Linked DNA regions of Homo sapiens. The protein of the gene in region 1 interacts with the protein of each later gene in a pairwise test. Each region holds a gene or a part of one and is shown in the gene's direction. Other genes may lie near its edges.

Region 1 (3,958 bases):
TTCATATTTCTCTCAACGTTTAATATTAGAAGTGTTTGGGGTCTTTATTGAGAAGTTTGGTGATGTTTTTGTGACCAGAAATATGCTATAGGAACTTAACTCTTGTTTACATCAATCAGCCTAGGGTAAAAATGGTTTTGTTATATGTTGTTTTGCGTAAAGTCATGGTTTCCAGGAACTTATGGAAGACACTGAGGATTACTCCAATACTTGTAGTAAATTTGGGAGAAAAAGGCAAGGACTAAAGTTACTACTCCTAACACAAATGAGACGGTCATGGTGTGCCCCATCAAAAAAGGAGAGAAAGAGAGACAGACACATAGAAACACGTGCACATACACACACACACACACACACACACACACACACACAGAGAGAGAGAGAGAGAGAGAGAGAGAGGGAGAGAGACTATAGAAACATGATGTTATAAATAACAATAGTGCTGAGGAAGATGAATTAGTGTAAAATTGTATTTTTTGTTCTGAGGATAGGTTACATAGATGATTCTAATCCATTTATTATTTTTACATTCCAGGCTACCTAAAAGAAGACAGTTATCTCATATTTGGCTGCCAGCTTTTTATCTTTCTCTCGACCACTTAAAACTTCAGACTTCCTGTCCTGCTGGTATCATGGAGAAAGTCCAATACCTCACTCGCTCAGCTATAAGAAGAGCCTCAACCATTGAAATGCCTCAACAAGCACGTCAAAAGCTACAGAATCTATTTATCAATTTCTGTCTCATCTTAATATGTCTCTTGCTGATCTGTATCATCGTGATGCTTCTCTGAAGTTCTGCTACAACCTCTAGATCTGCAGCTTGCCACATCAGCTTAAAATCTGTCATCCCATGCAGACAGGAAAACAATATTGTATAACAGACCACTTCCTGAGTAGAAGAGTTTCTTTGTGAAAAGGTCAAGATTAAGACTAAAACTTATTGTTACCATATGTATTCATCTGTTGGATCTTGTAAACATGAAAAGGGCTTTATTTTCAAAAATTAACTTCAAAATAAGTGTATAAAATGCAACTGTTGATTTCCTCAACATGGCTCACAAATTTCTATCCCAAATCTTTTCTGAAGATGAAGAGTTTAGTTTTAAAACTGCACTGCCAACAAGTTCACTTCATATATAAAGCATTATTTTTACTCTTTTGAGGTGAATATAATTTATATTACAATGTAAAAGCTTCTTTAATACTAAGTATTTTTCAGGTCTTCACCAAGTATCAAAGTAATAACACAAATGAAGTGTCATTATTCAAAATAGTCCACTGACTCCTCACATCTGTTATCTTATTATAAAGAACTATTTGTAGTAACTATCAGAATCTACATTCTAAAACAGAAATTGTATTTTTTCTATGCCACATTAACATCTTTTAAAGTTGATGAGAATCAAGTATGGAAAAGTAAGGCCATACTCTTACATAATAAAATTCCTTTTAAGTAATTTTTTCAAAGAATCACAGAATTCTAGTACATGTAGGTAAATCATAAATCTGTTCTAAGACATATGATCAACAGATGAGAACTGGTGGTTAATATGTGACAGTGAGATTAGTCATATCACTAATATACTAACAACAGAATCTAATCTTCATTTAAGGCACTGTAGTGAATTATCTGAGCTAGAGTTACCTAGCTTACCATACTATATCTTTGGAATCATGAAACCTTAAGACTTCAGAATGATTTTGCAGGTTGTCTTCCATTCCAGCCTAACATCCAATGCAGGCAAGGAAAATAAAAGATTTCCAGTGACAGAAAAATATATTATCTCAAGTATTTTTTAAAAATATATGAATTCTCTCTCCAAATATTAACTAATTATTAGATTATATTTTGAAATGAACTTGTTGGCCCATCTATTACATCTACAGCTGACCCTTGAACATGGGGGTTAGGGGAGCTGACAATTCGTGGGTCCGCAAAATCTTAACTACCTAATAGCCTACTATTGACCATAAACCTTACTGATAACATAAACAGTAAATTAACACATATTTTGCGTGTTATATGTATTATACACTATATTCCTACAATAAAGTAAGCTAGAGAAAATGTTATTTAGAAAATCATAAGAAAGAGAAAATATATTTACTATTCATTAAATGGAAGTGGGTCAACATAAAAGTCTTCATTCTCATTGTCTTCACATTGAGTAGGCAGAGGAGGAGAAAGATGGGGAGGAAGAGAAGGCGTTGGTCTTGCAGTCTTGTCTTAGGGGTGTGGGGAGTGGGGGAAAGAATATTCATGTATAAGTGGACCCTTGCAATTCAAGCCCTTGTTGTTCAAGGGTCAACTGTAATAGGATATAGCTATTTTTCTTCCTCTATCAACCAAATGGTAAGCATCTATTTTGCAGTCCACTCTACTGAGCTAAATTATAGATCCAGCTATGCTATTTATAATTATTTTCTTGATGAATAAATTTTCAATTTCTCCTCTGACCATTTCAGAACATCTTCCAATAACTCATAAAACAACTGAAGTAAAATTGAGTGCTGGAAAATATATTCACCAAACTTTGGTAATTTAAGTTGACTAAAGTTTAAAATTAAGTCTAAAATAGTTTACACCTATACTGCATAATCCAACAATTTTAATTTCAGTTGAAGACATGTTACTAATATAACTATTATTAAAAGAGTAGAGGATGTGTAATTAACCATATCTTCTAAAACATGGTTACTAAAAGAATATGTAACATCAATATTGACCTTGGTTTCTTACACAAGTGTTGCTAACTCAATAGTGAAGGAGACACTATTAAATTTTCTGAACCCATGAGAGATACTAGAGATGGGGAGTGGAAAGTGTTTGGTTCAGGGATATCTGAAGAACAGAAGGGCAGAGATTTCTTAAGTGACGCCTCATCTACAAGCTGGAAATTCCTAAAAACAAGTAGAAAGCTTATAAACAACAGGTGATACACTCACCTCACTGGTTTTAGTAAATTACCAATACAGAAAGTATCCCTAGTCTTAAAAACAAGTGGAAAATTTGAACTGATTAGTCATATTCCTTTGATTACACTGTTTGTTACAATATTTTTCTCAGTAAACAGAAATAACTAATTTTTTTGTTCTTCATTCTTTGATAGAAATTAAAATCTTATTCTGTGAGGATTACAGAATACTATAACTCAAATTATAAAGTAGAATAAACTCTTTAAATAATTATTCTTCATCATAAAGTGTAAAGAATAAGATATAAGAAAACAATTTATTTTTAAAATTTAATATACTAAATGCTCAAATATGTTCTACTATAGAATAAGTTCTTATCTTAATTTACAGGGCACTAAAAACAATTTTAAAATGCTTAATGTTGCCTTTTATATTTTAATTGGTTAAGAATATATATTTGTTTAATGCAAATCAGAATCACTATATTAAAATGAATGTTCTTGAAAACTCAGTGGGGCTGCTCTATAATACACTTACAATTGATACTAACGATAAAACGCTCTAATTATAGTTTTAATTTTATAGGGGTTTTTTTGGTGACTTTCCCCAAATAAAACAAAATCAAGACGCCCAAGTCCAGACACACAAGAGGGCAGACGTATATAAGATAACAAATTGCTACTACATAGCGATTATTTATCTTTTGATTATTTTTGAGACTTCTGGCAAAGTAGGACTATAATAAATTTTCAGAAAAGATCTGCTCTTCTGCTAAGTAACAGCACACTTCAAAATGTCCAGAAATTTTATGCTAATATTACATAGAAAACTTGACAGATGAAAAAAGTGAAACACATTACTAATTTTATTCATTAAAACAGGTATATAAAAGTCCTCTTTAACTACCTAATGAATGTGTCATATCCTAATATAGGGAGTGTCATAGTGTTCACATCTTTGAATATATAAATTATCTCAAACAGTTAAAAAATTAAAGCCAGAACAGGGTACAAAAATAAGAATAAAAATAAGAAAACTTTCT
Region 2 (7,037 bases), on another chromosome or scaffold:
CTCAGTGACAACTATCTGGAGAGACATTCATTCATCTCGATCCCACATGAAGAGAGCATTTCTCCTGATTATATAAGAAGTGGGTCAGAAAAGCCTGTCCAGTGAAGTATTGCTGCCTTCAAAGTGTAGAAAACCTCACTAAATCTCCTTAGTGGAAGGAAGTTCACTGTACAACAACTTATTTCATATTTATGATAGTATTTAGACATATACAAGGCTTTTTCACATCAAGAAACCTTATTCACATAAGGCATCTCTATCCTGCCCTTCATTTTACCAAGTCATCTGGAGCAGCAATCGCCAACCTTGTTGGCATGAGGGACCAGTTTTGTGAAAGACAACGTTTTCATGGACTGGGGTCAAGGAATGGTTTGGGGATAATTTAAGTGCATTACTTTTATTGTGCCCTTTATTTCCATTATTATTACATTGTGTAATAATATATAATAAAATAATTATACAACTCACCATAATGTAGAATCAGTGGGAACCCTGAGCTAGTTTTTCTGAAAGTAGATGGTACCATCTGTGAGTGATGGGAGACAGTGACAGTTCATCAGGTATTAGATTCTCACAAGGAGCCCACAACCTAGATTCCTCACATGAGAAGTTCCCAATAGGGTTTGCCCTCCTATGAGAATCTAATGCCACTGCTGATCTGACAGGAGGTGGAGCTCATGAGGTAATGTGAGTGATGGGGAGTGGCTGTAAATACAGATGAAGCTTCACTTACTCATTCGCTGCTTACCTCCTGCTGTGCAGCCTGCTTCCTGACTCATCCATGGACCAGTACTGATCCATGGCCTAGGGGTTGGGGACCCCTAATCTAGAGCACTTGGAGAACTATCTGTTCTCCAAAGCTGATCAAATGCTATCATTAATGTATCTAATATTTTAAGAAAGGGTAACACTGTTGAGAGCCAAATAGATACATGGCCCAGAGCAAGCTTAAGTTACTAATAACTCCTTTTTCAGCTCACCCCCTGCTGAAGGCATGAGTTTGAATCTCAGTTTTGCCATTTGCTGTGTAATGTATGCAATTATATTTAGCATCATATTTCTCACTTGAAAAATGAAAATAATACATTTAATACTTAACAGGAGTGTCAGAAAGTATATTAGCACTTGGTAATTTATACAATACAATATAAAAGTAAGAAATTTTTATTTTATTTATTTTTATTTTATTTTCAGCAATAAGAGCTAACTGCCATCAAGAGCCATCAGTATGTCTTCAAGCTGCATGCCCAGAAAGCTGGATTGGTTTTCAAAGAAAGTGTTTCTATTTTTCTGATGACACCAAGAACTGGACATCAAGTCAGAGGTTTTGTGACTCACAAGATGCTGATCTTGCTCAGGTTGAAAGCTTCCAGGAACTGGTAAGAAAATAGTTCTGGCCAGAATCAAAGATTCAGCCCTACAAGGATATGTTTTCCTGTGAAATTATCTAAGAGGTAGGTTTAGACATCTGCTTTTACATTGATTTTTTTTTTTTTTTTTTTTTTTTGCATAACGAAAGAGTAACCTAGCATGTATTATATTTTACAGTGAACCATCTAAAATTACCTTAATATTCGTGGCAGGAACAGGCCCAGAGGGCAAGCAAGCCAGAGCCTTCTTTGACTTGTGAGCCAGAATTGTGCAAATAAGGATTAGAAAAGTATTGGTAGAAACCCAGTTTTAAGTTTGTATGAAGTTAGCAACATTGTTTCAAAATAAATCAAACAAGGCCAAGAGCAGTGGCACATGCCTGTAATCCCAGCACTTTGGGAGGCCAAGGCGGGTGTATCACTTGAGGTCAGGAGTTTGAGATCAGCCTGGCCAACATGGTGAAACCCCATCTCAACTAAAAAATACAAAAATTAGCTGGGCATGGTGGCATACGCCTGTAGTTCCAGCTACTCAGGAGGCTGAGGCAGCAGAATTGCTTGAACCTGGGAGGTGGAGGCCTACAGTTAGCTGAAATCATGCTACTGTACTCCAGCCTAACAGAGTGAGACTCTATCTCAAAAAAATAATAAAATAAAAACAATAAGTCAAGCAAGAATGATGTCATAGAGGTTGGTAGACTAAAAAGCTACAGAAATCTGTTCCTCCACTGAGAAAACTATTGAACTGTCAAAAACTGTCTGAAGTAACTATTTTGGAATTCTCGAGTCTAGTTAAACACTGGAAGCATCAAGGGAAGAGTTTGATAAAGAGGATGATAAATTTTGGTTAATGTTGGTGAATTTCAGCCTTTCCACTCAATAATAACTATTTTCCATACCCCATTATTGCAGGGATCCATGGGAACTGCTGCCCATGTTCTTGTAATGAATTCCTGCAGCCAGGGTGAACAATAAGCACCTTTTTGTCCAAATGTCAGGGTTATTGCTGATTTCTGCCTTTGAATGCTGAGGGGCAGACACAGAAGTGGGCTATCATTGCATCAGTCCTCATCAGCTGAAGTGGCTTCCCAAGGATTTAAATAAATAGTATGTGTTTTTCCTCCCTTTAGGAAGCAGTCATTTAAGACAATTTTTATTAGATAACTGGCTGACAGCAGAGATAACAGAACAGAGATTTCAATGACCATGCACAACAGAGAATAAAAATAGTTGGGAAAAAATCATGACCAAATGACTCTGAGCCACAACAACCAAGATTTGACAATCCCTGAAGAGCAAAATAATTAAGTTACCAGAGTTACCACAACATAGTATTCATAATGTCCAGTTCTCAAAAAAAAATTACAAAACATGCAAAGAAAAGTATGGTTCATTCACAGGAAGAAAAAGTAATCTGACAGAAACTATCCCTGAAGAGGCTCAGATATTAAAAATATGAGTCAAAAATGTTAAATCAGCTGTCTTAAGTATAACCAATGAGTTAAAGGAAACTAGACAAAAAGCTAAAGGAAACCGAAAACATAATAAATGAACAAAATTAGAATATCAATATAAAGGTAGAAATTGTAAAAAAGAACCAAGCAAAAATTCCAGAGCTGAAAAGTACAATGACTGAAATTTAAAAATAATTTTAAAAACTCAATGAAGAAGTTCAACAGCAGATTTGAGAAGTAAGAGATCAGAAAACTTGAAAATAAGATAATTGAAACAATCCAGACTAAGAAAAACAAAGAAAAAGAATGAAGATAAATAAATTCTAAGGAACCTGTAGGACATCAGCAAACATACTAACATATGTACTGTAGAAATCCAGGAAAGAGAAGAGAAAGAGAAGCAGAGAAATACACTTAAAGAAATAATGAACAAAACTTTCCAAAATCTGAGGAAATACATAAATATATACATCCAAGAGGCTCAATGAACTCCAAAAGGGTAAACTTAAAGAGATCTACATTGAGACAAAATATAGTCAAGTTGACAAAATCCACAGAGAGAATTTTGAAAGCAGCCAGAATGAAGCAACTCATCATTTACATAAGACCCTGAATAAAATTAATAGCTGATTTTCTCTGAGAAACCATGGAGATCAGAAGGTAGTGGAATGGCATATTTAAATGTCTGAAAGAAAAAATAAAACTGCCAACCATGAATTCTATGTATAGCAAAGTTGTCCTTCAAGAATGAAGGAAAAAGTAACACATTTTCAGATAACCAATAATTAAGGGATTTTATTACCAGTAGACATGTGCTACAGAAAATGCTAAAGGAAACCTTTTAGGCTGAACTGAAAGTACACTAGACAGCAATTCAGAGCCTCCAAAATAAAGAATATTCATAAAAGTAACAATAGAGGTAAATATAAAACCCAGAATTACTACATGTGTCATATAGTTTATAACTTCTCCTATTTATAGCTTTCTATATTTATATTTATCTATAACTTCATAGGCAAATGAATAAAAATTATAAATATGATAGTGGTCATATAATGTATAAAGATGCAATCTGTGACAGTCTTATGAAGCAGGGATGAAGACATATAGGATCAAAATGTTTGCATAGTTATTGAAGCTATGTTGATATTATGAAATTATATTGTTACAAGTTTAAGATGCTAATTATAATTCTCAAGGTAACCACTAATAAAATTACCAAAATTATGCAGAAAAGGAAAAAAGAAAAACAATACACTATAAAAAACCAATTAAATACAAAAAAAGTCAGTAACAGACAACTTGAGAAACAAAGACATATAAGATATAGAGAAAACAAATGATTAAATGGCAAAAGTAAATCTTGTTTTAGTAATCACATTAAATAGAAAAGGATGAAGCCATCCTATTAAAGGGCTGAGACTGACAAGTTGGCTAAAAACTAAAATAAATTAAAAAGAAAAACAAGACTCATCTACATGCTGTCTATAAGAGACTTGCCTTAGATATAAGGACACAAAGAAGTTGAAAGTAAAAGGACTGAAAAAGATATTCCATACAAACAGTAGTAACCAAGATAGTGCCGAGTGGCTATATTTTTGTCAAACAAAATAAACTAAAGTAAAATTTACAAGAGAAAAAGAAGGGCATTATGCATTGACAAAAATTTTGACATAGCCAAATAATTATGTTATAAAATATATGTACTTAATAATACAGCCTCAAAATATATGAAGCAATAATTGCTATAATTTAAGGGAGAAAAGAACAGTTCTATGAAAAGTTAGAGAATGAAATATTCCACTTTCAACATGAGATTAAACAACTAGACATAAGATCAATAAGGAAATAGAAAATTTGAACAACACTATAAACCAATTATCCCTAACAGGCATATACAGAAGAATCTACCCAACAAGAGCAGAATATTAATTCTTCTCAAATGCACATGGAACATTCTTAAACCATATGTTAGGCCACAAAACAAGTGTTAGTAAGTGTGAAAATTTGAAGTCATAAAAAGTATCTTTTGCAATTACAATGGAATGAAGCTAGAAATCAATAACTAGAAAAACCAGAAAAGTCACGCATATGTAGAAATTTAAAAACCCGCTCTTCAACAGCCATTGGTCAAAGAAGAAATCACAAGGGACATTAGAAAATACCTTGAGACAAATGAAGTAAAAATACAAATAGCACGTTTATGGTATACACTGAACATAGTTCTAAGAGGGAAATTTATAGCTGTGAGCAGTTAACTAAAAAAGAAGAAAGATCTCAAATCCATAGCCTAACTGTACACTGTAAGGAACTAAAAAAAGTAAAACAAAAATAGAAGTCATCTTTATGATTTGAAAGAGTAAAAGATTTACCTAATAAGTCCCTAAATTTACTAATAATAAAGAAAATTGTTTATATATTTAATTGCGTTAAAATTCAGAACTTGTAATCATAAAAAGGACAGTACACATTGACAAGGAAACACAGCAAAGGAAACCAGCCTATGCTGCTGCTGTTGTGAGGATAATTTGGTACACTTACATTAGTTTGGTGTCTTTTCTTTCTCTTTCTTTCTTTCTTTCTTTCTCTTTCTTTCGTTCGTTCGTTCGTTCGTTTCTTTTTGAGACAGAATCTCACTCTATTGCCCAGGCTGGAGTGCAGTGGCGTGATCTTGGCTCACTACAACTTTTGTCTCCCAGGTTCAAATGATTCTCATGCCTCAGCCTCCCAAATAGCTGGGATTACAGGTGCATGCCATCACGCCCAGCTAATTTTTGTATTTTTTTTAATAGAGAGGGGGCTTCATCATGTTGGCCAAGCCTAGTCTCAAACTCTTGGCCTCAGGTGATCCGCCTGCCTCGGCCTCCCAAAGTACTGGGATTACAGGTGCTTGGCCTGGTGGTGTCATTTCTTAAAGTTGACAAAAAGCATATCCTGGGGCCTAAAAATTCTATTCTAGGACAGGTGCCAAGAATGTCATAGTAGCATACATTCCAAACTTGATAAAACCCTGGTGTCAACCGATAGTATAATAGATAAATTGGAGAAGAGTCATACAAAGGAGTACAATACAGAAACAAAAGTAACCAAATTATCAACAATTTCTCTCAGTTTTAAATTATCTTCTTTTGATATGTATGATAATATAGCACACCTATTCTGTATGTATTACTAAACAATACAAAATCAAAAGGAAGAAAATTATGAGTAGTTAAGAATATAGCATAGCAGCAACATTTCTGGGAGAGGATGGGTTATGTTAGATTAATGAATATCATCTCTGTGTTTTCTGAAAGAATTTCCTGTTGAGATATAAAGGCCCATCTGATCACTGGATTGGGCTGAGCAGAGAACAAGGCCAACCATGGAAATGGATAAATGGTACTGAATGGACAAGACAGTAAGTTCTAAAAATCTGGCAGTAATATTTGTATTTGAATTTACTTTGCATTAAATCTGAAGTGTTCTCTAGTTACATGCTTTAAAAAATTCTCATTTTAAGGTTAGTCATGAAAGAAGATGGTGCCAACTTGTATGTTGCAAAGGTTTCACAAGTTCCTCGAATGAATCCAAGACCTGTCATGGTGAGGTAGACTGACTGTGAACTTGGCTCCAGGCTTATCTATGTCATTTTCAAACACTTTCATTTTAAGCAAACCATACAATATCTTTAAGTCTGTTCCTTACCTCCACAACAAAATTAAATTGCACTTGTCCTCCTGATTTCACAGGGTTGATGTGAGGAACAGAGGTTTTGATGTATCAGGGAAAGATTATGAGTGACAGCAATTATACCTATTATTTAAAATAAGACAATAGTTTTAAAATTTTAAAATGGGTAAAGTTTGGCACTAGAAAATTTAATCTCAATTGTATATTTATAGGATCTTCAGATTACTAAAAAGATTTGAGATAATGCTGGAAAAATTGGATTCACACAATTTCACTCAATGTTTGTCTGAGAGATGAGACAGTTTTGAAAAGCTACTTTATTGTAATACATTCATCAATATTGGAAATATAACTTTATTTAATAAAAAGAGCCCCAGACTGGACATTGGCAGGTTTGAAATGAGTTTTTTCTCATTAGCTTTTGACCTTGGATGGGATGGTAAGTTTTAGAAATCAGAGAACATGTACATTTATACATTGTTGTATCTACACTGCCTTGCACATTGTGACTGCTTCATAAATATCTAGAATTAACTTTTAT
Region 3 (6,867 bases), on another chromosome or scaffold:
ACTCACATGCCCACAGTCATTGGATGAGGGAGAGAACCTTAGGGAAGAGTCCAGGGCCCAACACAAAGAGGTTGGGAATGCTGTTGAGCAAAGAAGGCTGAGACAGTCTTAGCTCCTGTGTCAACTCACTGTGTGGCCCATGAAGCAGGTACCCTCACATCACTGACCCTGCAAAACAAGAAGAAGAGCACCATCTATAGCTTACACCCCATCATGAGATTGATTGAGGAAATAAATTCAGTTTGAGGAAGGAAAGTGCTTTGTAACATATAAAATACCATGTGCATGGTGACTTCAAACAGTACAGAATTTGTAAAGTTCATAGTCTGCAATCTTCAGTGAATACTTCACTCATTCATCAAATATTTATTGAGCACCTATTGTGTACAAGATGCTATACTTCAAGAAAACAAGGAAATTGCCGATAAGGGGCTCCTGGCTGTCTCCTAGAGATGAGACATATACATAAACAGCAATGACAGATAGCTGAGGCCTGGAAAAGGAAAGATAAAGAGCTCTCAAGCAGTTGCTGCTGCTCCCAGCCTCCATTTAAGGTGTTTACTCAGAGATCTTCCAGCCCAAGGTCAACAGAGAGAACTGCCCAGAGCTCAGTGGGAAAGAGCAAGGATGGCTCAGACTCTGCGGGCTGGCAAGATAAGCAAATCAGCTGGTCAGAATATTATGTGCCCATGACATTCCAACATGGCAAGGTTAACTTCTTAGAACATGCAGAATAGCATTTAAACTCCTTACCCATCTCTCTACTGCCTGAATTCACTTTTGATTGGGGTTCTTGGACAATGGCCCTGAAGATGCTCAGACACACCCACATGAATACATCACTCACAGCATAAGCATGAACAATTAAAATCGCTAATGTTTATTAGCTACTTAATATGTGCTAGGCACTGCACTAAGCAACTTGCATGCATTATTTCTTCTGAAACAATCTTATGAGGTAGGCACTATTATTGTCCTCACCTCACAGATGGGATGAGAAAACCAAGACACAGAGAGGTTGTGGGGCTTCCCCAAGGATGCACAGCTAAGTAGGTGGGTGGTAGGGTTTGGCTCTGTGTCCCCACCCAAATATCGTTTGGAATTTTAATCCTCATATTCCCCATGTGTCAAAGTCGGACCCAGTAGGAGGTGACTGGATCATGGGGGCAGCTTCCCTATGCTGTTCTCATGATAGTGAGTTTTCACAAGGTCTGATAGTTTTATAAGTGTTTGGCAAGTTCCTCCTTCTCACACACTCTCTCTCTCCTGCTGCTATGTGACAAGGTCCAAGTTTGCTTCCCCTTCTTCTGCCATGACTGTAAGTTTCCTCAGGTCTCCCCAGCATTGTGGAAATGTGAGTCAATTAAACCTCTTTCCTTTATAAATTACCCAGTCTTTGGCAGTTTTTTTTTGTTGTTGTTTTTTGAGACAGTCTCACTCTGTCGCCCAGGCTGGAGTGCAGTAGCGCAATCTCGGCTCACTGCAAGCTCCGCCTCCCAGGTCCACACAATTCTCCTGCCTCAGCCTCCCGAGTAGCTGGGACTACAGGCGCCCGCCACCATGCCCAGCTAATTTTTTGTATTTTTAGTAGAGATGGGGTTTCACCGTGGTCTTGATCTCCTGACCTCGTGATCCGCCCGCCTCAGCCTCCCAAAGTGCTGGGATTACAGGTGTGAGCCACTGCGCCTGGCCAGCAGTTTTTATAACAGTATGAAAACAGACTAATACAGTAAATTGGTACCAAGATAGTGGGACAGTGCTATAAAGATACTTGAAAATGTGGAAGCAAGTAGGGAACTGGGTAACAGGCAGAGGTTGGAACAGTTTGGAGAGCTCGGAGGAAGATAGATAGAAAGATGTGGGAAAGTTTGGAACTTCCTAAAGACTTGCTGAATGATTTTGACCAAAATGCTGATAGTGATATGAACAGTGAAGTCCAGGCAGAGGTGGTCTCAAATGGAGATGAGGAACTTGTTGGGAACTGGAGTAAAGGTCACTCTTGCTATGCTTTAGCAAAGAGACTGGTGGCATTTTGCCACCTCCCTAGAGATCTGTGGAACTTTGAACTTGAGAGAGACGATTTAGGATATCTGGCAGAAGAAATTTCTAAGCAGCAAAGCATTCAAGAGGTGACCTCGGTGCTCTTAAAAGGATTCAATTTTATGCATTTACAGAGAGATTGTTTGAAATTGGAACTTATGTTTAAAAGAGAAGTAGAGCATAAAAGTTGGGAAAATTTGCAGCCTGACGATGTGATGGAAAGAAAAACTCATTTTCTGGGGAGAAATTCAAGCTGGCTGCAGAAATTTGTCTAACCAGAAGCCAAATGTTAATCGCCAAGACAATGGGGAAGATTACTCCAGGGCATGTCAGAGAACTTTGCAGCAACCCTACCATCCTGGGCCCAGAGGCCTAGGAGGAAAAACAATGGGCTGGTCCAGGGCCCCACTACTGCCCTATGCAGCCTCGGGACTTGGTACCCTGCATCCCAGCCATGGCTAAAAGGGGCCAGTGTACAGTTCAGGCCATTGCTTCAGAGGGTGCAAGCCTCAACCCATGGCGGCTTCCATGTGGTGTTGAGCCTGCAGGTGCACAGAAGTCAAGAATTGAGGTTTGGGAACCTCCACTTAGATTTCAGAGGATGTATGAAACGCCAGGATGTCCAGGCAAAAGTTTGCTGCAGGGGTAGAGACCTCATAGAGAACCTCTGCTAGGGCAGTGCAGAAGGGAAATGTGAAGTTGGAGCCCCCACACAGAGTCCCCACTGGAGGACTGCCTAGTGGAGCTGTGAGAAGAGGACCACCGTACTCCAGACCCCAGAATGGTAAATCCACTGTCAGCTTGCACTCTGCACCTGGAAGAGCCACAGACACTCAACACCAGCCTGCGAAAGCAGCAGGAGGAGAGCTATACCCTGCAAAGCCACAGAAGCAGAGCTGCCTGAGTCTGTGGGAGCCCACCTCTTGCATCAGCATGACCTGGATATGAGACATGGAGTCAAAGGAGATTATTTTTGAGATTTAAGATTTAATGACTGCACCACTGGATTTTGGACTTGCGTGGGGCCTGTAGCCCTTTGTTTTGGCCAATTTCTCCCATTTGAAATGGGAGCATTTATCCAATGCCTCCTGCACCCCCACTGTATCTTGGAAGTAACTAACTTGCTTTTTTTTTTTTTTTTTTTTTTGAGACACAGTTTGCTCTGTCACCCAGGCTGGAGTACATTGGCACTATCTTGGCTCACTGCAACCTCCACCTCCCAGGTTCAAGAGATTCTTCTGTCTCAGCCTCCCAGTAGCTAGGACTACAAGTGTGTGCCACCACACCCTGCTAATTTTTGTATTTTTAGTAGAGACAGGGTTTCACCACATTGGCCAGGCTGGTCTCGAACTTCTGACGTCAAGTGATCCACCCGACTCGGCCTCTCAAAGTGCTGGGATTACAGGCGTGGGCCGCCGCACCCGGCCATTTGCTTTTGATTTTACTGGCTCATAGGTGGAAGGGACTTGCCTTGCCTCAGATGAAACTTTGGACTTTGACTTTCAAGTTAATACTGGAATAAGTTAAGACTTTGGGGGACTGTTGCTAAGGCACAATTTTGTTTTGAAATGTATAAAGAACATAATATCTGGGAGGGGCCAGGGGCAGAATGATATGGTTTGGCTCTGTGTCCACACCTGAATATCATCTCAAATTGTAATCCCAGTAATCCCCATATGTTGAGGGCAGGACCCAGGGCAAGGTGACTGGATCATGGGAGCGGTTTCCCCCATGCTGTTCTCGTGATAGTGAGTGAATTCTCACAAGATCTGATGGTTTTATAAGTGTTTGGCAAGTTCCTGCTCCACACCATCTCTCTCTTCTGCCGCCATTTGAGAAGGTCCAAGTTTGCTTCCCCTTCGCCTTCCACCATGACTGTAAGTTTCCTGAGGCCTCCCCAGCAATGTGGAAGTGTGAGTCAATTAAATTTCTTTTTTTTTTTTTTCTAATAAATCACCCACTCTCAGGTAGTTCTTTATAGCAGTATGAGAATGGACTATTGCAGTGGGGGAGCCAGGATTTGAATCCAGGTATTCTGTCTCCACTGTGCCACCACTGTCTAATAACACTAAAATTAACTACCTAGAGCCACCTCGGGGCAGCTTGTGTATATAAGTATGTGTGCATGTGTGTATGTGTAGGGGTGTATGTGTGTGTGTGTGTGTGTGAGAGAGAGAGAGAGAGAGAGAGGGAGAGAGAGAGACTACTACATTGTGAAATAGTCCACCACACAAGCCAGAGCAGAGGTCACCATGCTCCTAAGAGGCCAGGAAGGCACCATGGCCATGTTAGGGGTGGGTGTGTGAGCAGGATGTGTGTGAGTAAAGGAGATCAATATTCGTGCATGTGGAACTGAATTGGAGGTAGCTGTGGGACCTCAGGAGGCCACCTGCCCAGAACAGTGGCACACACTGCAGAGAAGCTGAAAATTGTCTTGGGCACAAGTGGAGCACCCCTGGGTAGAACCGAGGGAGATTGAGAACAGTTGCTATCTTCAGAGCTTTTTAACTTCTCCCCCTAAGTAGCCTCAACTGATGGGAGAATTGACACATTACCCCTACGTAATAGGTGGGCACAGCCTGAAGCAGCCACCTGCAGACTCTACATTTCTTCCCTTTATATTTTATTTTAATAATATAAAGAGTTGCATTTGACTATTTTATAAACCATGTTTGCTTAAATATACAACTATTATTCTATATTAGTTCATATCAAGCTCAATCAGCATTCCAGAAAACTGTGCTTCTCAGTGCCCTGGGCATTGACTACTCTGGCTCAGAGTTTCATGCCCAGTTTCAGGAGCGAAGCACTCAGACATGGAGCACCTCAGAAGGTTTTTGAGCAGTGGCACGACCAAGTCATGTTTTAAGATAATTTACCCATCACCAGTGGCAAGGTGGAGAAAAACTGGGGAGACTGAAGTGAGGGAAATCAGCTAGAAGGTGACCTGCGTTGGGGAGGGCCTGGCTTAAAGGGAGATAATGGGCTGATCCAGACTGAGGGCTCTGAAGGAGAACTCGATGGCTGAATAATTGCAACTGATGGAATGCAAGAGGCAATAAATAAATTGCCATTTATTCATGGGATGAGAGGGCTCAATATGTGGAACATTGAAGGGTCACCCCACTTTAGAAGTGTCACATAAGGACCGGGTGCAGTGGCTCACACCTGTAATCCTAGCACTTTGAAAGACCAAGGTGGGCGGATTGCCTGAGCTCAGGAGTCTGAGACCAGTCTGGGCAACATGATGAAACCCCGTCTCTACTAAAATACAAAAAATTGGCTGGGCATGGTGGTGTGCGCCGGTAGTCCCAGCTACTAAGGAGGCTGAGGCAGGAGAATTGCTTGAACCCGGGAGGTGGAGGTTGCAGGGAGCCGAGATTGCGCCACTGCACTCTAGCCTGGGCAACAGTGGAGACTCCATCTAAAACAAAGAAAAAAGTGTCACATAAGAAGGGTGTGACGATCTCCTATGAGATTCTTCCAAACACAAGCTAAGGAGGAGCATCAAAAGAGGTCAAGTGGTCTGCTCTCTCCCCCACCTCATCTCACAGCCACTGCAGGCTCCTCAGAGCTTTTCTGCTGGAGGCCAGAATTCCCCTGCCAGGCTCTGGTTAGATTCTCAGCTGCAGAACCCCAGCCCTGGCCCTGCAGCAGAAACCAGAAAGATAAAGCCCCTGGCCCACTGGCCACCAGCCATCTCTAACCCCAGCCAGTCCTCAGAGGACCCAGAGGAGGTGGTGCTGCCTCTGACTCCTGCCCCACCCAGCCTGACCCGCTGGCCCCAGTGAGTCAGTCTCCTCTCAGCCCAGATCAGACTTACTAACTTGGAGCTGCCAAGAAAACTCTGAGCCACCCCTAATAAAAGCCGGCACTCAGCCAGGCTCTTATACAACCCAGCCCTGAGTAAGGCACCTCTCAGCCCAGCTACTGGACTGTTTACCTGCCTTGTCTTCTTAGTGCCCAGGTGTCTCCTGGATTCCTCCCCTCCCTGATCTCCCTGATGTGTGATCCACCAGTCCAGGGGCCTCATCTGTCCCCATTCTGGCAGCCTGACCAAACATCCACCTAGCCCCACACACCTGATTTTTCACCTTCAGAGTCTACCAACTCAGGGATGAGTGAAGCCAGTGCTCCCAGGGACCCAGCCTGACTCACTCAGCAAGGTCCTTTCAGAATGATGCTGTCACTGAGATCCTGGTGGCAAGATGGCAGAGAGTCTGGGGTTGTGTTTGGTGAGCCAGAGTGAAGGACAATCAAGCAGACTGCCCTAGAAAAATGAAGGCTTAGGATCAACCTCTGAAGTGCTCTTAGGTGGGAAAAGGAGTCCCTGTATCCTGTGCAGGTATAATGGACAGAACTGGAAACAGCAAAGAGAAAAAGTCCCAGGGACTTGATGTCAGCTCCACAGATACAAGGGTTTCTAGTAAGCAGGGCTGTTCTCAACAAGACCAACCTGCCTCATGGGAAAGGGACCCCAGCCAGGAGAAGCTAGGTATCCAGAGGTGTTAAAGAATGGATTCCTTCATCATTTCAGAGAGGACATCCCTCTTGGTTCTAAGGTTGTAGAAATTTATGGAAACTCTCCTTGCATCAATTGCAAGGTCTTAGGCAAAATATATCAATCCAACTAATATTCTGGAGAACCTGCTAATCACTTTTACTTCTCCAGAGCTGCTGTGGTCTCAATAACTGAGTTGGTTAGAAGATGAAGTAAGGCCAGGCACAATGGCTCACGTCTGTAATCCCAGCACTTTGGGAGGCCCAGGCCAGTGGATTACCTGAGGTTAGGAGTTCAGGACCAGCCTGGCCAACATGGTGAAACCC
Region 4 (7,772 bases), on another chromosome or scaffold:
CTTCAACAAAGAAAGCAAAAACACAAATAGGGAAGGGGCACCCTATTCAACAAATGGTGCTGGGATAACTGTCTAGCCACATACAGAAGAATGAAACTGGATCCTCATCTCTTACCTTATACAGACATCAACTCAAGATGGATCAAACACTTAAATGTAAGACCTGAAACCATAAAAACTTTAGAAAATAACGCTGGAAAAACTCTTCTAGACATTGGCTTAGGCAAAGATTTTAAGACCAAAAACCCCAAAGCAAATCTAACAAAAACAAAAATAAATAGATATTACCTAATGAAAACACTTCGGCACAGCAAAATAATCAGCAGTGTAAACAGACACCTCACTGAATGGGAGAAAATATTCAACTATGCGTCCTACAAAGGACTAATATGCAGAATCTACAAGGAACTCAAATCAGTAAGAAAAAAAGAAATAATCCCATCAAAAAGTGGGCAAAGAACATGAATAGACAGTTCTCAAAAGAAGATACACAAATGACTAACACATGAAAAAGAATGCTCAACATCACTAATTATCAGGGAAATGCAGATTAAAACCACAATGAAATACCACCTTACTTCTGCAAGACTGGCCATAATTTACAAAGTCAAAAAATAGTAGATGTTTGCATAGATGTGATGAAAAGGGCACTTTTACACTGATGGTGGGAATATAAACTAGTACATCCACTGTGGAAAACTTTATGGAGATTCCTTAAAGAACTAAAAGTAAAACTACCATTTGATCCAGCAGTCCCACTATTGAGTATATATCCAGAAGAAAAGAAGTCATTATATGAAAAAGCCACTTGCATCTGCATGTTTATAGGAGCAAAATACACAATTGCAAAAATATGGAACCAGCCTAAATGCCCCTCGACTGACAAGTGGATAAAGAAAATGTGATATATTTACACCATGGAATACTACTCAGCCATAAAAAGGACTGAAGTAATGGCATTTGCAGCAATTTGTACGGGAGTTGGAGACCACTATTCCAAGTGAAGTAACTCAGGAATGGGAAACCAAATATCGTGTATGTTCTCACTTATAAGGGTTTGCTGAACTATGAGGATGCAAAGGCATAAGAATGATATAATGGGCCGGGTGCAGTGGCTCACAACTGTAATCCCAGCACTTTGGGAGGCCAAGGCAGGCGGATCATGAAGTCAGGAGATTGAGACCATCCTGGCTAACATGGTGAAACCCTGTCTCTACTAAAAATACAAAAAATTAGTCGTCGTGGCACGCGCCTGTAGTCCCAGCTACTCAGAGGTCTGAGGCAGGAGAATCGCTTGAACTTGGGAGGCAGAGGTTGCAGTGAGCTGAGATTGCGCCACTGCACTCTAGCCAGGGCGACAGAGCAAGACTGTCTCAAAAAAAAAAAAAAAATACATACATACATACATATATATATATATATATATATATATATATATATATAATGGACTTTGGGGACTCAAGGGAAAGTGGGAGGAGGGTGAGGGATAAAAGACTATACATTGGGTACAGTGTACACTGCTCAGGTGATGAGTACACAAAAATCTCAGAAATCACCACTAAATAACTTATCCATGTAACAAAAAAATGACCTGTTCCCCAAAAACTATTGCAATTTTTAAAAATGTAAACATTAGCCATGCGTGTTGATGCACACCTGTAGTCCCAGCTACTTAGGAAGCTGTGGCAAGAGTATCTCTTGAGCGTTGGAGGTCGAGGCTACAGTGAGCTATGATTGCACCACTGAACTTCATCCTGGGCAACAAAGTGAGCCCGTCTCAAACACACACACACACACACAACAAAAAATTGGTTTTGTCCTGGTACCTGGTTATTATAATTTGAAGCAGAAATTATTTTGTTTAGATTTTTTAATATTAAGAAGCATCTCCGTCGGGCGAGGTGGCTCACACCTCTAATCCCAGCACTTTAGGAGGCTGAGGTGGGCAGATCACCTGAGGTCGGGAGTTCAAGAACAGTCTGACAAACATGGAGAAACCCCGACTCTACTAAAAACACAAAATTAGCTGGGCATGGCGGCGCATGCCTGTGATCCCAGCTACTCAGGAGAGTGAGACACGAGAGTCACTTGAACCCAGGAGGCCAAGGTTGTGGTGAGCCGAGATCGCGCCATTGCACTCCAGCCTGGGCAACAAGAGCAAAACTGTCTCAAAAATAAAAAGTAAAAAAAAAAAAAGCATCTCTACTCACCATTAACTATACAATTAAGAGGTCACACCTTTGTTTCATCATCGTAGACAAGGTAAATATTACTAAAGAAAATGCCTGTCCATAAAAGGGATCTGGTGACAGAGGACAGCCTCTCCCAGAGTAACAGGCATCCAGGACTCCACTCTATCAACGATTTCTAAAACAATGGGTGTGAGCAAGGGCTAGGATGAGATGTGTGATTAAGTTCCTGAGCTGACGGCAAATTTAAAAGATGCCCTCTCAGCTCCTGGCTGCGGCCCATCCTCCCTGTAAGGTGCACGACTCCATGACGCTTTTCACTGACGGCACTACCTCTTGGCCATTACCACCTCCCACCAGATCCCATTCGCTCTGTTTTACCAGGGAAAGGTCTGCTCCAGTTAATGCCTTATCCTTCACAGTGATGTTCTTTGACTTTATAAAAACGGAGCCATTTGGTCAACAGGCTGCCCGTCGGATCCCGTGTCCTTCTGCACTGCTAATATCTAGCTGTGGCCCTGCTTTAAAACCCAAATGCAAACATCTCTTCCATGAAGCCCTTCCTGATTGCCAGTGCCCTCAACAGTGGAATAAGCTGCCAGGCATCTTAGAGATCTAGACCCGTGGTTCTCAACCCCCACTTCCCCAGGCCTCCTGAGAAGCTTTTAATAGGTGCATCAGCCCTGGATTCTTACCGGCAGGACTGAGAGGGAGCCTTAACGCTTGTGTTCTTCTAATAGTGTGCACAGGGTTGACGGGAAACACACACACACACAGTGCAGAACCATTCCACGAAGCTGTGTATCCGGAATTGGTTCCCTCTGAAGAGTTCCTGGTCCCGGTCCTGCCGCGGACCTTCACGGCATTATAGTTCTTAAACATGGTGTGTCCGGAGTTTGTTCCTTCAAATGTTCAGGTGTGTCCGAAGTTTTTTCTTTCTAGAGAGTTCGTGGTCTATGCACGACTTGATGAGTGAGGCCGCGGACCTTCGCAGGGAGTGTTACAGCTCTTAAAGGTGGCGCATCCGCGTTGTTCCTTCCTCCCAGCGGGTTCGTAGTTTCGCCGACCTCAGGAGTGAAGCCACAGACCTTCGCAGGGAGTGTTACACCTCTTAAAAGTGGTGCGTCTGGAGTTGTTTGCTCCTCCCTGTGGGTTCGTGGTGTCGCTGACTTCAGGAGTGAAGCCACAGACCTTCACAGTGAGTGTTATGGCTCTTAAAGGTGGCGGCTCCAGAGTTGTTTCTTGTGGTGGCTTCCTGGTCTCGCTGGTTTACAGGAGTGAACCTGCAGACCTTCACTGTGAGTGTTAAAGCTCATAAAGGTAGTGTGGACCTAAAAGGTGAGCAACAGCAAAATTTATTGCAAAGAGCGAAACAACAAAACCCCAACACCATCGAAGGGGACCCAAACGCAGCTGCCGCTGGCTCGGATGGCCAGCTTTTATTCCCTCATTGGCCCCGCCCACATCCTCCTGATTGGTCCTGCCCACATCCTCCTGATTGGTCCATTTTACAGAGCGCTGATTGGTCCATTTTACAGAGTGCTGATTGGTCCATTTTACAGAGTGCTGATTGGTCCGTTTTTACAGAGTGCTGATTGATGTGTTTACAAACCTTTAGCTAGACATAGAGCATTGATTGGTGCATTTACAATCCTTTGGCTAGAGAGAAAAGTTCTCCAAGTCCCCACCAATTAGCTGGACACAGAGCACTGATTGGTGCATTTTTACAGAGTGCTGATTGGTGTGTTTACAAACCTTTAGCTAGACACAGAGTGCAGATTGATGCTTTTACAATCCTTTAGCTAGACAGAAAAGTTCTCCAAGTCCCCATCCGACCCAGAAGCCCAGCGGGTTTCACCTCTCAGTAGCTTACAGAAGAGGACCCTGCTGCCACAGCACAATACCACAAAGAAAGTCATGCTCTCCTCAGCAGGTAGCCCCCTTCTCCGGGACAGGAACTTTGTTTCCTTCTTAGCTCTATCGCCAGCACCTAGAACAGTGCCCACCTGTCAGATCTGTTATCAGATGGGAACATGGCAGATTTGTTGAATGAATGAAGGAATGAATGAACTATGTGACACTCAAACTTAGCCACCAAACTTAAACTAAAAAAACTGGGTTGTGGTCCCTGATGGACCGTTGGCACCTTCTTCCTTTGCTGGACGGTGATCCGTGGCTGTTTCTGCGGTGTGTTCGCAGTGGTTGCCTGGCTTGGTAACAAACACTCTTCGGAGCCACAGCCTGTTCTCAGGGTCCTCGCCGCCTCCCAGGCCCTGCGATCTCTTTGCATCTCAGGAGGTCCAGGTTGGTTGCAGTCCTCTTGGGTGACTCAGGAACCAGCCTCTCCTGAAGCACACAGCTTAGGGAGTTCCTGAGGCCAGAGACATCTCCACGGGAAAGTCAAAGGCCTGGAGGAAGTGCGGACCTGACGACAGATGCCCCGCACGCTGGCCGGGACCGGGAAGGGCGGTCAAGGGTGGAAAGGGGCTGGCGGCTGCCAGGCCTGGCGGAGTGGAGCGGGGCGGGGCGCAGCGGGGCGGGGCGGGCCTGGAGCTGCACCTGCTTCTGGGCGGACGCACTTGGCGCGCGGCGCGGGCTGCAGACGGCTGCGAGGCGCTGGGCACAGGTCAGACGTCCGTACCCGCAGGGGGCTCGAACCTGGAGGAGGGCTCGAAGGGAGAGGGGGCCCCGCCAAGGAGCGGGGCTGTGATGGAGAGGAGGTTCCGACTCGCAGGGGACCTGCGGGGGAGGGGACGCGGACAGGGAGGGGCTCTGGGACAGGGGTGAAGGCTGCGCTAGGGGAGGACGGGAGGGGATGGAGGGCCCTGGTGTCGCGGAAGCCCAGCTGGGGCCCCCTCCGGGCTGCGGAACCGGTGCGCACACTACTCCCACCGCCCCCGAGTGCCTCTGTCCGGCTGGCCGCGGCCCTGGAACGAATATTGCTCAGTCCCCCGCGAGTCAGGTCTGCCGCGTTGCCCGGTGAGGGGAAGGTGTGAAGCCCCGGGCCTCCGTCTGCCCGGTGAGTCCGGGGACGCGCGCCCCCGGGGATGCCATCTGGCTCCTGGGCTGTGACCAGTCACAGCTCACATAGCTCTGGGCACTGGTACCGACTGCCTTTCCTTGTTAGCTGCGATACACAAATACACGAGCCAGATCCTTTCCTGAGGCCAGGAAGCCTGGAATCTAATAACACCGGGCGGTGGATAAAGTCCCCCGAGCCAGTGCTTAGCTTCCGTTAATGGAGCCATGGATGGAAGCGGATGTCAGGCGCAGTGGGGGAGAAATTTGCGGGGGTGGCCCTGTCTAGGGCCAGAGAAACAACCTCTGAAGCTTTGATCCAGCCCTAGAGGGAAGAAAGATGTGAGTTTCAGCCAGGGAAACGTAGCACTTTAAGAAATAGAAACCCTTTCAAAATTTGAGGGCAGGTAGCTCTCCTAAAAGTTGCAGAAATGGCCACTTCTTTTTTTTTTTTTTTTTTTTTTTGAGACGGAGTCTCGCTCTGTCGCCCAGGCTGGAGTGCAGTGGCGCAATCTCGGATCACTGCAAGCTCCACCTCCCGGGTTCACACCATTCTCCTGCCTCAGCCTCCCGAGTAGCTAGGACTACTGGCGCCCGCCACCACGCCCGGCTAATTTTTTGTATTTTTTTTTTTTTTGGTAGAGACGGGGTTTCACCGTGTTAGCCAGGATGGTCTCGATCTCCTGACCTCATGATCCACCCGCCTCAGCCTCCCAAAGTGCTGGGATTACAGGCGTGAACCACCGCGCCCAGCTAGAAATGGCCACTTCTTTCACGTTCTCTTCGACCGCTTTCTGCGGTGTCTGCCCTTTTCCTCCTCCTGCACCTTTTTGTCTCCTAGGGTCGCATAGCCTTCCAAACAGGCCTGCCTACAGCATTTTACCTGCAATTTTACACTCATTTTAATAGAAAGGATGGCTTATTGTTCATGAGAGACGTGTACTGTTTTTAACCAGATGTGTAATATCTTCAGTATAACCTGGATGTTGTGCAGTGGGAAGTTATGGAAAGAATCAGGACACGTGGTTAGGTAGGGGCCCAGGGGCGTCAGACTTAGCTCTTTGTGACAGTGAGCTTCTTGGTTTAATAAGGATATTGGCTCCCTCTGTTCCTGGGGTTTCTGGGAAAAGATATGGAACTGATATGAAGGTTTTATTGAATATGGCCCACTGATTTTACAAGTGGAGGTGACTGAGATAAGCAGAAGGTGAGGCATGACCTCTGGCTGTGCATTATTTGTTCTGATATTACAGGAGCCAAGCATTCCATTTCCTTCTTTTTAAAGAGCTTTGATTTCCTCTCACATCTTCATGAAGATGGAAACAGTGCCCCCACTTACTTATCCTCAGGCCACACCTGTTCCCATTTATTCCATGAGTTCCTCCCACACCCTTCTGGTTGATGTTGGTTGTGATGGTCGAGGTAATTGAATCTCACATTTGGCACCAGTTATTTCTGTTTCTCATCTCCCCCCTACCTGCAGTTAAACATCAGCTGCTATACTTAACTGTTCAAAGTACAGATGTTACCTGTGTTGGGTGTAATCAAAAGATTATCTCTTTTCCTCAAATGAAAAATGGGTGAGGACAGTTTCACCACACATAGAGTCACTCCCCTAGCCAAAGTCCTTGCTATTGCAAAACTTTTTACTGTAAGAGAATTAAAGTCACTAGTGTGTCATCAACTAATGGTACTTATAGACACATTCCATATTTGTTTCTATAGAAAGATCATAAGACAAACACTAGATTATTCCCAGTATGAGACCATACTGAATATGAACAATTAGAGGCCACAGGTGAGTGCTGTCCTCCTCACACTTTCTTTGAACTCTTAAGCTTCTACTCTTTTAACCAGCTACCCCTCTCCCCAAAACCTTCACTGAGGCTAGAAACAAACACAAATAGACTATTTGAATTTTAGCAAATTTTATCTCTCTTTTCTATTCTCTTGTGTAAAACTTAAATGGCCACAAGCTACACTACTGGAGGAAAAAGGAAAGCTAAAAGGTCTATCAGCCTTCTGTATGTGATGCAGAGTTCAACTGAATATAGCAAGGTACACACCCGCATTCTCCTTGCCAGGACTTAGATATCATAAGCCATTATCTTGCTGGTTGTTGAAATCATAATGGGGCTTTATAGAGCACAAGGCGATGTTTGTAAACAGCACTGTTCAGGTCAGATTAGAATCCGTATTTCAAAAATGAGGAGATGGAAACAGAGATATTGTGTATGTGGTCCAGGGTTAGCCAGTAATTAAATGGCAGAGCCAGAACTCAAACCAACATTCCTTCCAGAATACCACAGCTGCCTCTGGAGTGGTTTTTGTTGTTCTTGTTGAATTTTGTGATGGAAGATTGTGATTTGTTTTTCCCGAACACTTAATATGTTTTCTGACTTGAATTATCAGAATCTAAATTTAGAAACTCTCTCGTTTGGTATATTTCATGCCCATCTTTGTTCCATATAATTACAAAAATATCTTAGAGCTGAGTATAACCTTAAAGATTGTCAAGTCCAATCTTGTGGTTTTTCAAGGAAGAAAACCGGATTTAAGAAAAAT

Evidence for each region.
Region 2: the proteins of PLN (region 1) and CLEC2D interact in binary tests that used the Homo sapiens proteins (3 or more experiments, as listed by UniProt).
Region 3: the proteins of PLN (region 1) and SLC14A2 interact in binary tests that used the Homo sapiens proteins (3 or more experiments, as listed by UniProt).
Region 4: the proteins of PLN (region 1) and TMEM45B interact in binary tests that used the Homo sapiens proteins (3 or more experiments, as listed by UniProt).

What each region holds. Positions count from the first base shown.
Region 1 is NC_000006.12:118,558,290-118,562,247, forward strand, and holds the end of PLN (phospholamban), read left to right. Parts: intron 1-535; 5' UTR 536-632; coding exon 633-791; 3' UTR 792-3,427; downstream 3,428-3,958. UniProt on the Homo sapiens protein: Reversibly inhibits the activity of ATP2A2/SERCA2 in cardiac sarcoplasmic reticulum by decreasing the apparent affinity of the ATPase for Ca(2+).
Region 2 is NC_000012.12:9,686,708-9,693,744, forward strand, and holds part of CLEC2D (C-type lectin domain family 2 member D), read left to right. Parts: intron 1-1,194; coding exon 1,195-1,379; exon of another isoform or gene 1,380-1,454; intron 1,455-6,120; coding exon 6,121-6,224; intron 6,225-6,326; coding exon of another isoform or gene 6,327-6,408; intron 6,409-7,037. UniProt on the Homo sapiens protein: Receptor for KLRB1 that protects target cells against natural killer cell-mediated lysis. Inhibits osteoclast formation. Inhibits bone resorption. Modulates the release of interferon-gamma. Binds high molecular weight sulfated glycosaminoglycans.
Region 3 is NC_000018.10:45,611,630-45,618,496, forward strand, and holds the start of SLC14A2 (urea transporter 2), read left to right. Parts: upstream 1-3,846; 5' UTR 3,847-3,953; intron 3,954-6,867.
Region 4 is NC_000011.10:129,811,084-129,818,855, forward strand, and holds the start of TMEM45B (transmembrane protein 45B), read left to right. Parts: upstream 1-4,764; 5' UTR 4,765-4,815; exon of another isoform or gene 4,816-5,208; intron 5,209-7,772.